Linked DNA regions of Homo sapiens. The protein of the gene in region 1 interacts with the protein of each later gene in a pairwise test. Each region holds a gene or a part of one and is shown on either strand. Other genes may lie near its edges.

What was found. Proteins that work in one complex are often made in the same cells at the same time.
Region 2: the proteins of EHHADH (region 1) and ZBTB10 interact in binary tests that used the Homo sapiens proteins (3 or more experiments, as listed by UniProt).

The regions. Positions count from the first base shown.
Region 1 is NC_000003.12:185,244,050-185,247,549, forward strand, and holds part of EHHADH (peroxisomal bifunctional enzyme), read right to left. Parts: intron 1-3,500. UniProt on the Homo sapiens protein: Peroxisomal trifunctional enzyme possessing 2-enoyl-CoA hydratase, 3-hydroxyacyl-CoA dehydrogenase, and delta 3, delta 2-enoyl-CoA isomerase activities. Catalyzes two of the four reactions of the long chain fatty acids peroxisomal beta-oxidation pathway.
Region 2 is NC_000008.11:80,499,726-80,503,225, forward strand, and holds part of ZBTB10 (zinc finger and BTB domain-containing protein 10), read left to right. Parts: coding exon 1-657; intron 658-3,500. UniProt on the Homo sapiens protein: May be involved in transcriptional regulation.

The DNA of each region.
Region 1 (3,500 bases):
TATTTAAGACAGCTATATCTTCTCCTTGTATTGAACCCTTTATTATTATATAATACATTCTTTGTCTTTTTACTGTTGTTGATTTAAAATCTGCTTTATCTGATGTAAATATAGCTACTACTGCTCATTTTTGTTTTGTGTTTGCACAGTGTATCTTTTTCCACTCCATTGAGTTTGTGGGTGTTTTTACCAAAGGGTGTCACTTGTGGGCAGAAAACGATCAGGTTTTGTTTTTTAATCCAATTTGCCTGTCTATATGTTTAAGTGGAGGATTTAGGCCATTTATGTTCAGGGTTAATATTGATATATGAGGGTTTGTTTCCGTCATAATATTGTTACCTAGTTGCTTTGTTGTCTCAATTTACACTACGATTTTTATATCTACATTTATAAATGAAATTAGCCTGTAATTTTTCTTTTCCATACTGTCCTTGTCAGGTGTTAGTATCAAGGGTATGCTGCCTCAAAAAATGAGTTGGGAAGTGTACTGAGTTGAATAGTGTTTACCCAGAAGCTGTGAGTGTGACATTTGGAAAGAAGGTCTTCGCAGATGTTATCAAATTAAGATGAGGTCATGCTGAGTTAGGGTGGGCCTATAGAAGATCAGGAAAATTTAGACATGGAGGAAAGAAAGCCATGTGATTAAAGTGAGACTGGAGTGATGCATCCATAGGCCAAGGATTGCTAGAAACCATAAGAAGCTAGAAGAGGCAAGGAAGGATTCTTCCCTAAAGAAAACAGAAGAAGAATGACCCTGCTGATATCTTGATTACAAACTTCTATCCTCCAGAGCAATGAGAGAATAGATTTCTGTTGTTTTAAGCCACTTGGTTTGTGGCAATTTGTTATGGTGCTCTAAGAAACTAATAGAGAAAGTGGCCCCACTTTTTTGATTCTCTGAAATGTTTATGTAAAATTGGAATATTTTCCTTGACTTTACAGTAGACCTTGCCAGTGGAGTCTTCAGGGTCAAGTATTTACTTGGTGAGATTTCTGATTACTGATTGAATTTCTTTAATGATTACAGAACTATTTGGGTTTTCTATTTCTTCTTGAGTTAATTTTGAGAAGCTATTTTTTTTACATGTTCATAATATTTTCATTATCTTTCTTTTTTCACTGTTACAATAACTTTAATTTATCTTGTATTTTACAGAAGTCTATGAACGATTTTAAAAAAGCACCTCTTTACCCCATATCATGTTTCTCTGACAGTTGTTAAAGTAGTCTATACATATGTCAACAGCTTGAGCATCAGCATCTTGCAAGGATTTCACACCAACCAGCCACTAGCCAAAGAACTTGGCAGCTTTTTTATCTTGCTTTTAATACAATGGTATATCCACTCTGATGGCAAACTGGTTTAGCCACATATCCACAACACGCTTTGAAAAATCAGTGATTAGCAAATTAGTTAGCTTTGGCACAGGGCTGTGCTCGCTTGCCCATGACAGTCTGGAAGCCAGTTTTGATACTGGCAACAGAACATCTAGAATGACAAGTTTCACACTGTAGGAAATAAGAGTTGCATGTCCTTCTGCAGGATTGTGTCCAGTGATCAGCATGTGTGACAAGTGACATACTCCTTGATAAATCTTAAGACATTTTCTATCTGTTTTTGTTGGAATCTTCCTTTACAAGTTGGTTATTACCATCTATAGAACCACTTGTACCCAATTCAACCAACAAAAATGCAAGTGTGCTGACAATATAATAGTTTACAGATATCTGTAAAGTTGACAGAAGAAGTTTTCTTGGTTCCTACTCAGACGACCTGTGGAGGTTGCATAACGAATTTCTTTTTCTCCCCAGCAACCATATCTGGATTCTTTTCCCTCATGATGTTGAACACACAATTCAGCAGCTCCTCTTATGTGTAGTCTCCTTCTGAGCCTGCCCAAGCAGGGCCTGTCTGATTACTGAATGAGATACCATCATCTTTTTTGCTATCTTCATCTTCTAGAGCTTCATCTTTCTCTAGTAGTTCATCCTCATCTGGGAACTTGACATTCTTCTTTTTCTTCTTTTTATTCCAAGCATAATGTCAAGGTCATCCTCTGGTTCAGCTGGTTCTTGAACATCACTTTCAATCTTAAGATCCTTTACAACTTCTTCAGCTTCATCAATATCAAATATCTTTTTTGTTTTTTTTTCTTTTTCTTTTGATTAAAGAAGTTCAAGTCATCTAGATCATCAGAAGCATCGTTTTTCCTACTGTCCTCATTGTCAGCTTCCAAATCTTTGTCCTCAGTTGGCTCTGGCTCCAGACTTTTGTTTCTGAGGGCTGCGTTTCCTGTTTGAGTATCCCCTTCCTCATCTAACATAAAAGGCTTCTTCTTCTTCTTTTCTTCTTGCTCACAGTAGGATCAAAAATCATCTCATCTCCAGATATGGATGCGATTCCAGTGGGCTCCGCATGGATGGGAAGTCAGACAGGTCAGCCCCCAGGCCCCGTGGCAGCGCTGCTCCTGCTGATACCTCTCCCACCACCGCACTAGGCTCTTGCATCAGCCAAAGGGCCATTATCTTTCTTAAAGGCTACAGTATCTGCAATGATATCCCTTTCATCATTCTTTATATGCATTGCTTGGTGCCTTCTCTTCTCCTTCAATCTCTCCAGAGTTTGTCAATTGTATTAGTCTCAAAAAACTAACATTGTTGTTCCTCTTGATTCAAATGTTTTCTATTTCATTAATTTCTCCTCTTTATTATTTCCTTTCTTCTACTTGATTAGGGTGTATTTTACGGTTAGTTTGTCAGTTCCTTTACATAAATACTTAACTCATTATATTTCAGCCATTTTTCTTTTCTAATATATATTTTTAAAGCTATAAATTTTCTGATAAGTTTTACTTTAGCTGCATCCCTCAAGTTTTATATTATGTTTTCATTGCCATTCAGTTCCAAATTTTTTCTAAATTCCATTATTTCTGTTTTTACTCAGAGGATATTGGAAATTAACTTCCAAACATATGAGAATTACTAGTTATATTTTTGTTATTGATTTCTAGCTTAATTGCATTGTTGTCAGATAATGTATTCTTAATGAAATTTATTTAGATAAGATTTTATAATTCAGTATCTGGTCAATTTTTGTAAATGTTCCAGATGTATTTCAGAAGAATGTATATTCTCCCATTTTGGGGTGCATTGTTCTATGTAAATGTATTAAGTCAAGTTTCATAATCCCTAATACTTTTTTAGAAGAATAATTTTTTCTGCCTCCAAACTCTAATTACATTCTCTCATCTACCTTCTTTCTTACAAAGAAATATCAAGTTCTTTATCATTCTGAGCACTCTTCCCATGCATCATCGTCATCATCTTGGGTGACAAACCTTAAATTTCCAAACAGTGAGTAAGCCATTTAATAACTGGTTAAGGTTTGGGACATTATATTAATCTCTCCCAGGCTCAAAATCTCTTCTTACCTGTAAATGAGGATTGTAGGACTAACTGAGAATTAACATATAACATGTTTAAAAATACTATTATTTTTA
Region 2 (3,500 bases), on another chromosome or scaffold:
ACCAAAACAATACTACCCACTTAGATATTGCTGCAGTTCAAGGTTTTTCAGTCATCTTGGACTTCTTGTATTCTGGTAACCTGGTGCTCACAAGCCAAAATGCCATTGAAGTTATGACCGTGGCCAGCTATCTTCAAATGAGTGAAGTTGTTCAAACTTGCCGAAATTTCATTAAAGATGCCTTAAATATAAGCATTAAATCAGAAGCTCCAGAGTCTGTAGTTGTGGACTATAATAATAGAAAACCAGTTAATAGAGATGGTCTGTCTTCATCACGGGATCAAAAAATTGCCAGTTTTTGGGCAACACGGAATCTTACCAATTTGGCAAGTAATGTAAAGATTGAAAATGATGGTTGTAATGTCGACGAGGGCCAAATAGAAAACTACCAAATGAATGACAGTAGTTGGGTCCAGGATGGATCTCCTGAAATGGCTGAAAATGAATCTGAAGGTCAAACAAAAGTGTTTATTTGGAATAATATGGGCTCCCAGGGAATTCAAGAGACTGGCAAAACAAGGAGGAAAAACCAAACTACAAAAAGATTTATTTATAATATTCCACCTAATAATGAAACGAATTTAGAAGATTGCTCAGTAATGCAGCCACCTGTTGCCTATCCAGAAGAAAATACACTACTCATCAAGGAAGAACCAGGTAAATATTATCTATACAAGGATACTTCCTTGTTCATCCTAATTCTAGTTGGATATAATCTTGAAGTATATTTTTAATTGAATTATTTTAGTTATAAAGTAATACTAAAGTTGTTTACAAAAGAAGGGGGAACGTCATTCAAATGCATAACATATTTGGTATATTTTCTTTGTCTTTTTTCAACACATATATATGTGGGTTTATCAAAAGATGTATTAATAGCCAGGTATTGCATATATTGTCAAGGAACGTGGACTCTGCTGCATGTACGGGTCTTTGACTTTCCTCATTTTTAGCCTCTGTGCTCACTATTTTATACCCAGTGTTGGGAAAGATAGAATCTTTAGTTGTAATATATAATCACTGTCGTTTCAGAGACCCCCTTAACCTTTTTTATTTTATTTTTGGCTGTTAAAACATATTTAAGTGTTTCAAAGAATTTTGCCAATTATGAGATTATGGTATTCTAGTTTGTTTAGGGCTACTGTTCTTCTGTTATTTTTTGTTTATTTATTTTTTTGAGTCGGAGTCTCACTCTATAGCCCAGGCTGGAGTCTCACTGCAAACTCCGCCTCCCAGGTTCAAACGATTCTCCTGCCTCAGCCTCCTGAGTAGCTGGGACTGCAGGTGCGTGCCACCACACCCAGCTAATTTTGTATTTTTAGTAGAGATGGGGTTTCACCATGTTGTCCAGGCTGGTATGGAACCCCTGACCTCAGGTGATCTGCTTGCCTCGGCCTCCCAAAGTGCTGGGATTACAGACATGAGCCACCACACCTGGCCTAGAGCAGGTACTGTTCTGTTCTCACCATAGAAGCTATTTTGTTTGTCCACTGTCACCTGATTTTCATTCACCTTTGCATTCATTGCAAAGCCTCTGAGGCCTTTCTCTTCAATATATTTCTCTCCAAAAGTTCCGTAGGAATCTTAGAGAATCACATTTACAGTGGGAATTTTTTTAAAACGAGAAGACCATTGTTAAGTCTTTAGTTTAATCTGGCTGTGCATATCTTTATTTGAAGAAGCTCAGTGGGTTTGAGGTTTCCTATGCATGCCTGAGGCTTGTCCACCACTGTCATACATTATTTAATGCTTGTTTTTTTCACTTCAAAGCACTGTAACTGTTCAGTGTCTGATTTATACGATGGTGGTCATCTGAGGATGGAGTATTTTCTGTTAAAGGAATCACTGTTTTTAGTTGCCAGAGGGCAAAATGCCATAGTAATCCTGTGAAATGTTCCTCTGGCTTTTTAGATTTGGGTTAGCTTTCAGTGATAGGAATTTTGTGTATGTATGTGTGTGTGTGTGTGTGAAATTTTTACTGTGTGAAAAATCAAGTGTGTATATATAACGAATACTATATATCTTTTTCCTTGTACTTTATATCAAGTTTTAACAATAAAATCCCTGAGACAATTTAGTTAAATGAAGTATTAAGGGTAGATAGACTCCTTAGCTAGCACTTTGTTTTGTCTTAATGTAGAAGACCTTGACAGATTTCTCATTAGAGCTACGTTGTCTTTGTGCTGTATGGATTATTTCTGTTTAACAGTATGGTGGGAACCCTGTAGTGTTTTTAAATACACACACTTTTCCTTAAAGGAATAAATAACATCTTTTGGGTGTAGCGGTTGTTTGATGGTAACTAGTCAGCAGTAACCTCATTTAAAAAATTAATGCCACATATAATTGGAGTGATTTAAAGAAAAGCATTAATAATGAACCACAATGCATACTTTCAAAGATGACATTACTAGCAATTTTTATCAAGTATCTCCTAGCCATGGTTGTGTTAATGGACTAGTTCTATTATAAATTAATTGGTGGTCTAATATGCTTTATCTCTTACATCTGTTTTGTTTGTTTGTTTTTAAACGGAGTCTCACTCTGTTGCCCAGGCTGGAGTGCAGTGGCACAGTCTTGGTTCACTGCAACCACTGCCTCCTGGGTTCAAGCGATTCTCCTACCTCAGCCTCCCAAGTAGCTGGGATTACAGGCACATGCCACCACACCTGGCTAATTTTTTTATTATTACTAGAGACGGGGGTCTCACCATGTTGGCCAAGCTGGTCTCGAACTCGTGACCTCAAGTCCACCCACCTTGGCCTCCCAACATGTTGGGATTACATGGGTGAGCCACCGTGCCCAGCCGTCTCTTAAAAAGGATTATTTTCATTTCATTGATACCAGTTTGGTATCCGAACCTTGCTTAACTCACAAATTTGGTTCTATCCATGCCACCAGTGTTATTTGGTGGAAAAAATAAATGGGTCTCAAAAGAGCATTATGGTTAGGGTATATAATATGATATAGAACCAAGGACTGGTAAATTTTTACTGTAAAGGGCTAAAACAGTAAAAAAAAAAAAGACTTTCACCTTTGTTGGTCATAAAAGTCAGCTCATCAACTCTGCCACTTGTGACATGAAAGCAGTCATTTGTACTATGTAAACAAATGAAGGTAGGTGTGTTCCAGTAAAACTTGCCAACCCTTCGTATATAGCAGTGGTTCTTAATCATGGGTATGCACGTTGGTATCACTTGGGAGCATTACATGCCGTAAAGGGTCTCTCTTCTGTGGATTCCAATTTAATTGGTATGGAATGTGGTTTGGATGTGGAATTTTTTTTAAAGTTCTACAGGTAATTTTATGAGTTAAGGCTGAGATCAGCAAATATTACTATATTGGAAAGAGCCTAAATTGAGTCAAACATAATGAATTTAAAATTTAAAAATAAGCTGTGCCACCTACCCCCTGTAGTCCATGATCAAATTAAGCTCTTGTCCTCAGTTTCCTCATTAAAATATTGTGTTGATTTTATAGAATTATTATGAAAATGAAGT